Homo sapiens: one gene and its partner. The protein of the gene in region 1 purifies or fractionates together with the protein of each later gene. This does not show direct contact. Each region holds a gene or a part of one and is shown on either strand. Other genes may lie near its edges. The genes, in order: KGD4 and SPTBN2.

What was found.
Region 2: the proteins of KGD4 (region 1) and SPTBN2 purify together in Homo sapiens (affinity purification with mass spectrometry; one large-scale study listed by BioGRID and IntAct). This does not show direct contact.

Annotation. Positions count from the first base shown.
Region 1 is NC_000005.10:69,220,591-69,224,404, forward strand, and holds part of KGD4 (alpha-ketoglutarate dehydrogenase component 4), read left to right. Parts: intron 1-3,814. UniProt on the Homo sapiens protein: Molecular adapter that is necessary to form a stable 2-oxoglutarate dehydrogenase enzyme complex (OGDHC). Enables the specific recruitment of E3 subunit to E2 subunit in the 2-oxoglutarate dehydrogenase complex (OGDHC).
Region 2 is NC_000011.10:66,698,120-66,701,933, forward strand, and holds part of SPTBN2 (spectrin beta chain, non-erythrocytic 2), read right to left. Parts: intron 3,603-3,814; coding exon 3,465-3,602; intron 3,164-3,464; coding exon 2,407-3,163; intron 1,490-2,406; coding exon 1,287-1,489; intron 964-1,286; coding exon 873-963; intron 667-872; coding exon 520-666; intron 50-519; coding exon of another isoform or gene 1-49. UniProt on the Homo sapiens protein: Probably plays an important role in neuronal membrane skeleton.

The DNA of each region.
Region 1 (3,814 bases):
CCGTCTGGGAAGTGAGGAGCGCCTCTGCCTGGCCGCAGTGCAATCTTCCAAGTGTGAAGTGACAGCCTTTCTGCAGGTGTACCCAACAGCTCTGAAGAGACAGCAACCATCGAGAACGGGCCATGATGACGATGGCGGTTTTGTCGAAAAGAAAAGGGGGAAATGTGGGGAAAAGAAAGAGAGATCAGATTGTTACTGTGTCTGTGTAGAAAGAAGTAGACACAGGAGACTCCATTTTGTTCTGTACTAAGAAAAATTCTTCTGCCTTGGGATGCTGTTAATCTATAACCTTACCCCCAACCCCGTGCTCTCTGAAACGTGCTGTGTCCACTCAGGGTTAAATGGATTAAGGGCGGTGCAAGATGTGCTTTGTTAAACAGATGCTTGAAGGCAGCATGCTCGTTAAGAGTCATCACCACTCCCTAATCTCAAGTACCCAGGGACGTAAACACTGCGGAAGGCCGCAGGGACCTCTGCCTAGGAAAACCAGAGACCTTTTTGTTCACGTGTTTATCTGCTGACCTTCTCTCCACTATTATCCTATGACCCTGCCACATCCCCCTCTCCGAGAAACACCCAAGAATGATCAATAAATACTAAAAAAAAAAAAAAAAATTAGCCAGGCAGGAGGGGTAGTGTGTGGGTGTGTACCTGTAGTCCTAGCTACTTAGGAGGCTGAGGTGGAAAGATCACTTGAGCCCAGGAGTTTGACGCTGCAGTGAACCACGATCACTCCACTGCACCCCAGCCTGTGTAACAGAGCAAGACCTGGTCTCAAAAAATAAATAATAAAGTAAAACATTTTCAGACTGGCTAACAAATGAAAATCCAGTGCTATGCTATTTATAAGAGGCATAGCTAAAACTAAGATTTGGAAAGGTAAAAATAAAGAGATAGTCAACTGATCTTTGACAAAACGAGCAAAGGGAATACAATGGAGAAAAGATAGTCTTTTCAACATGGTGCTGAAAAAATTGGATATCCATCTAGACACAGACCTCACGTTCTTCACAAACATTAACTCAAAATGGATCCTAGACCTAAATGCAAAATGCAAAACTATAAAACCCTTAGAATATAACATAGGAGAAAATAAAAATAACCTTAGGTTTAGGAATGACTTTTTAGATATAACACCAAAGGCATGATCCATGAAAAATTAATTGATAAGCTGGACTTCATTAAAATAAAAAATTCTGCTCTGTGAGACACTGTCAAAAAAAGGCAAGCCACATATTGGGAGAAAATACTTTCAAAAGACATATCTGATAAAAGACTATTATAGAAAACATAAGGCTGGGCACGGTGACTCATGCCTGTAATCCCAGCACTTTGGGAGACCAAGGCGGGCAGATCACCTGAGGTCAGGAGTTCGAGACCAGCCTGGCCAACATGGCAAAACCCCATATCTATTAAAAGTACATTTGTATAAGTATATAATACATATTTACATGCCTATACAGTTAGACCTAACTTACAAATGGTTTATTCACGTATTTGGCAACTGTTACTTGGGCATTTACCATGTAACAGGAATGCTACTGCAGAAGTGCTTAGTTTTCTGTCTCTGACTGTCCAGGAGCTTAGTGCTCTTCTATAATCATTGGCTAACTTATCTGTCCTCTGAAAACATAAGGAGAGTTTTTAACTCAGACTTTGGAATTTGGGAAAGGTTCTTAGAGAAGAGTGACATTTGAGCTGTTGTAAAGGATAAGCAGTCAGAAGGATAGGCATGGAAGTGGAATGGGATAGGAGGGAGATTTCATGGCAGAGGACGTAAGCTGTAGATGGAATGAGGATAAATAGGATGAATTGGGGAAAGGAAAAATACTTCAGAATACTTGGAGCAATGGGTACATAAGACAGTAGGGGAGAAAGGCTGGCAAAGTAGGGAGAGGCCAGATCACAATGGGTGTTGTGAGTGCCAAAGAAGAGTTTGAACTTTATCCTGAAAGCTGTGGAACATTTTTCAAACTTCTTTTTTTTCTTCTTTTAAGTTGTAGAGAGGGAGTCTCATCTTCTTGCTCAGGCTGGTCTCAAACTCCTGGGCTCAAGCCGTCTTCCCAAAGTGCTGGGATTACAGGCATGAGCCACTGACCTCAGCCAGTTTTCAAACTTCTAAATAGGGGAGTGATGATAGGATAGATAGAACATTCTCTTAAGAAGCTTGGCTATGAAAGTGAAGAAACAGTTAATAGAGAAGTTTTTTTTTTTGAGACAGAGCCTCTCTCTGTCACTCAGGCTGGAGTGCAGTGGCTCGATCTCGGACTTCCACTCCAGGGTTCAAGCAATTTTCTGCCTTAGCCTCCCGAGTAGCTGGGATTACAGGCGCCCACCACCACGCCCGGCTAATTTTTTTATTTTTTTAGTAGAGACAGGGTTTCACCGTCTTGGCCAGGCTGGTCTTGAATTCGTGACCTCATGATCCACCCGCCTTGGCCTCTCAAAGTGCTGGGATGACAGGCGTGAGTCACGGTGCGCAGCTTTTTTTTTTTTTTTTTTTTTTGAGACAAAGTCTTGCTCTTTCACCTAGGCTGGAGTGCAGTGGCACAATCTCGGCTCACTGCAACCTCTGCCTCCCAGGTTCAAGCGATTCTCCTGCCTCAGCCTCCCGAGTACCTGGGACTACAGGTGTGTGCCACCACGCCTGGCTACTTTTTTTGTATTTTTAGTAGAGACGGGGTTTCTCCGTGTTAGCCAGAATGGTCTCGATCTCCTGACCTCATGATCCACCCACCTCGGCCTCTCAAAGTGCTGGCATTACAGGTGTGAGCCACCATGCCCGGCCGAGAAGTTTTTTAGCATGGAAGACTTGAGCATGATTTTATGGTGAGGGAGAGAACACATTCCAGCATTTTCTCACAGCCACAGAATTACAGTGGTGAATTTTTAGGCCAATCCCATACCTATTTGCTTCTGTGCCCACATAAAATGCATAATATGTACTACAAATATATAAATATATTGCAGATAAACCCACCTCAGTCTTATTCGTTACATAGCAATTTATAGATTAGTTGAAAATAGTACTTTGTTCATTAGATTCTTAGCATTGTATATTCAGAAGATTTCATATTGACAGGTCCATTTAAGGTCCTCTGTACCACTATCTGGAATTTTACGGACAAAAATGTTAATACTTTTCAAACATCTGTTCCAAAAACAGTATTCCAAAAATATGTATTCCAGGCCAGGCATGGTGGCTCACGCCTGTAATCCCAGCACTTTGGGAGGCCGTTCGAAACCAGCCTGGCCAACATGGTGAAACCCTGTCTCTACTAAAAATATAAAAATTAGCCGGGTGTGGTGGCGGGCACCTGTAATCCCAGCTACTTGGGAGGCGGAGGCAGGAGAATCACTTGAACCCTTGAGGCGGAGGTTGCAGTGAGCCATGATTGCGGCACTGTACTCCAGTCTGAGTGACACAGCAAGACTCTGTCTAAAAAAAAAAAAAAAAAAGTATTCCTATGGGTATAGGAAAAAGACTAAAATAAAGTGCTATCAAATGTTTTAATTTGGGCCGGGCATGGTGGCCCATGCCTGTAATCCCAGCACTTTGGGAAGCCGAAGCAGGTGGATCATTTGAGGTCAGGAGTTCAAGACCAGCCTGGGTAAAATGGGGAAACTCCATATCTACTAAAAATACAAAAATTAGCGGGGTGTGGTGGCGCAGGCCTGTAATCCTGGCTACTCAGGAGGCTGAGGCAGGAGAATTGCTTGAACCTGGGAGGCGGAGGTTGCAGTGAACAGAGATTACGCCACTACATTCCAGCCTGGGTGACAGAGGAGACTCCATCTCAAAAAAAAAAAAAGT
Region 2 (3,814 bases), on another chromosome or scaffold:
TAAGGATTGGCAGACTACATACAGCCCACGGGGTAATCTGGCCCACTGCCTGTTTTTACAAATAAAGTTTTATTGGGAAACAGCCATGTTCATTCATTCACTTATTCTCTGAGGCTGCTTTTGCACTACAACGACAGAGATGAGTAGTTGTAGTAGAAACTGTTTGGACTGCAAAGCCTCAGATATTGACCATCCAGCCCAAGCCCTTTCCAGACAAGGTTTGCAGAGCCTGCTGAAGAGCACCATCCTGCTTTGAACTCAGGAACAGTTATGGCGTTAAATCCAGGCTGCAGTTTCGCTACCTGCTAATTTGTACTTTATCAAGGTTCTGGACTCACTGTCCCACTCTTTGTCTCCAACAAAGACGTTTGTTTCCCAGAGGCCATAACTTTCCACCATGGAGCTGTGGCACCAGAACCCCACAATCTCTAACCATGACAAAAACCACGTCCTGGAGCCAGGCCCTCCCCCGTACCATGGGGGACTCTGCCCAGAGGCAGCCCCCACAGCACTGCTCACCTTGTCCACCTTGTCCAGCCAGTCTTTGTTGGCAGCCAGCTCGGCCATGAATGCCTGGTGCTTCTGCCACTTAGTATGCAGGTTGCGGGCCTCGTCATAGGACACGTCCTGGGCTGTCAGCATCTTCTCGTCGATCCAGAGCTTCAGCTGGACCAAACATAAAACAGGGACATTTCCAAGGGAGGGGAGAGGGGGGCATAAAAGCAGGGCCACAGTGAGCCAGGAGAAGTGGGCGCCTTGGGAAGAAGCCATGAAGGGGCTCACAGTCTCCGGTACCTTGTGCTGGACTTATTCTAGGCTCAAGGTGAGAAAGGGATGGCTAGGGAATATCCCGGGGCCCCAGGGAGCCTCACCTCGTGACAATCTTGCAGGAAATGCTGCTGCTCCCGGTTGTCCCGAAGACGGCCCAGAAATTGCTGCGCTGCGTCTTGATTCTTCTTGTGCCTGGAACGACACCCTCTTGTGAAACTCTGGAATTTGCTGTGAAAGGATTGTGACCCTTTGGCTAACCTAGGGGCCTCCATTTCTTCTAGGGGAATAACGCCTTCCGGGAGCACAATGAGGCTACCCAGGAATCCTGACTTCCTTTTAGCCCTGGTTGGGGGTGGAATCTCCCAGCCCTCTCCAACCACTTAGTTCTTCCCCTCTACTTCTCTGTCAGCTCCTGCCCCATCTGTGGGTTTCCTGTGCCACGTTTATCTTTGAGGTCACCCTGTTTCTCCGATTCCCCCCTGGGAACCCTAATTCATGGACTGTCCTCATCAGACCTCCTCTCAATGGAGTCTGCCTTTTCCCGAATCTTGTCGGCGTGGATGTTGCCTTCAGATACCAGCTGGCGGCCAGCCTCCAGGAGCCCGTGGATCCGTTCCCCATTGGCGTCCATGGTGCTCATGAAGTCCTCCAGTTTTTTAATGGCAGCATCAGCAGCCTGGAGTGTCCCTGGCATCTCCGTGTGAGACAGAACATATTCCTGTGTGGGAGGGATGACATTCAGCTCATTTTCCCCAGCACAATTCACCCCCCTAGGAGGGACCCACCCAGGGGCAAATCTGAGAGGTAGGGACCAACAAGCAGACAGGGAGGGTAGCCCAGAGAGCTCTGAAGACAGGGAGGCTGCCAGCCAGCATGGGAGCCTCAGAAAGTCACAGGGAAGCTGGGTGGGAAGGACCTTCCATTCCCCAGCCCAAATCCTGTTCTATCTCACTTCTAGCTCCTGATTCCATTTAACAGTTACATGACAAACTGGGCTTTCTATTTCTTCTAAAGTCAGTTTTAGTAAATTATATTCACGTCTTTTTCATTCTCATTTTTCCTTCTTTTTTCTTTTTCTTTTTTTTGAGAGAGGGTTTCATTCTGTGGCCCAGGTTGGAGTGCAGTGGCATATCATAGCTCACTGCAGCCTCAAACTCCTGGCTCCAGTGATCCACCAGCCTCAGCCTCCCCAGTAGCTGGAGCTACAGGCATGCACCACCATGTCCAGTTAATTTTTTTTTTTCATAGAGATGGGGGTCTCACTATGTTGCCCAGGCTGGTCTCAAACTCCTGAGCTCAAGTTATTCTCCTGCCTCGGCCTCCCAAAATACTGGGAGTACAAGTGTGAGCCATCCTGTCTGGCTCCCATTTTTCTTTTTAAAAAATTCTTCTATTTTCTTAAAAAAATTTTTTTGTAGAGACAAGGTCTTGCCATGTTGCCCAGGTTGGTCTGGATATTCTCAGCCTCAAGTGATCCTCCTACTTTGGCCTCCCAAAGTGCTGGAATTTCAGGTGTGAACCACTGCGCTGCCCCATTTTGCTAGCATGTCCTTCCTGCCCATCCTGCTCCTTCACATTTCCCCGGGTCCCTACTTTGCTCTTCCTCCTGCTTGGGACTTTGCCCTGGACTTTCACCTGGCTGCTGAGCACGCCCTCAGCCTGACGAGCATCCCGCAGGAATCCCTGGAAGCCGTGGGCCTGGGCCAGGCGACCTTGCCGGCTCTCCCACATTCGGCCCAGCTCCTCCCAGCCAGTTCCCAGGGCCTCCAGTCGCTGTCGTAGGAAGAGGCACTGGGGGTCAGCCTGGTCCCGGGTCACCTCCTCGCCCAGGGCTCGCAGCCGGCTATACTCGCTCTGGGCCCGCTCCACCTCTCCCCGCAGGGCTGCATGTTGGGCCAGGAGGGCCTCTGCCTCAGGCAGGGTGGCCGGCCCTTCTTCAGAGGCCACAGCAGTCTGAGTGCGGCCTAGCCAGGCCTGGAAGTCATCCAAGCTGCGCAAGAAGTCCTGCAGCCGCCGCGCCTCCCCCAGCGACTCTTCTCGACGCCGCATGGTGGCCCTGAGGTCCTCCCAGCCGGTCTGCACCTCTCTCAGCCGGGCGTTGATGGCCACTGCCTGAGCGGGATGGCCGGCAGCCAGGGCATTTGCCTCTCGAGTCAGTTCGCCCACCCGGGCGGCGATGGCCTCCAGGTCCCGCTCCGTGCCGGCCAGCTTGCGCTGCAGGGCCAGCACCCCAGCCAGATCGTTGCCTAGGCCCTGGGTGGACTCGATGACTTTGGTCTTCTCTCTCATCCAGGCCTGGGTCTCCGTGCACTCTAAGTGGTAGTTCTGGATGCTCAGGGCTGAGGTGAGAGCTGCCTTCTTGCCGTCTGCCAGACGCCGAAACTGCTGCCACCTGAGAGCAGGGGGAAGGTTCAGCTTCCTGCCCTGGCCAGGCCTGTTTGGAAGCTTCTTCCCTGCTTCTCTCTCTCTTGGTAGCTCCCCTTCACTCCTCCCTTTCTGGCCAGCAGCCGCTTCAGACCACCTTGACCCCCTCTCTCATCTCTTTCATCCTTTTTCCTTCCCCAACATATTCCAGACTGGTTTGCTTCCTCCTTTGTAGCCACCCTTCCAGGCCCTACAAAACCTGCCTCTCACTGCCATCCCCATTGCTTCATTTTTCTGTCAGTTTCCTGGTCCTGCCCTCCCAAACCCACCTGTGGTTGAGCTGCTCCTGGGTGTTGACAATGCGGTCTTTGCCTGGGGGGTTGGCCTTCAGTAACTGCTCGGCAATGTCATTCACCGCGGTGATTTGTGCTGCAAGGGTGTTCATTTCAGGCTCCAGGGTCTCGAACCTGAGAGGGTGGAAGAGCCAGGCGTGAATTGTGGGAGGCAGCGATGTGCCCAGTCCACCTAAGTCCACCTCTCTTAAACACCCAGGAGGGTGTCTCCTTCACCAGGAGGCTTATCTGCAGGAGTCTCTCTGCCTCTCAGCCTATGAGGTTCATAGTATCTGTGCATCAAGGAAGGAACCCACAACTCCCCCAAAACAAGCAGAATAACTGTC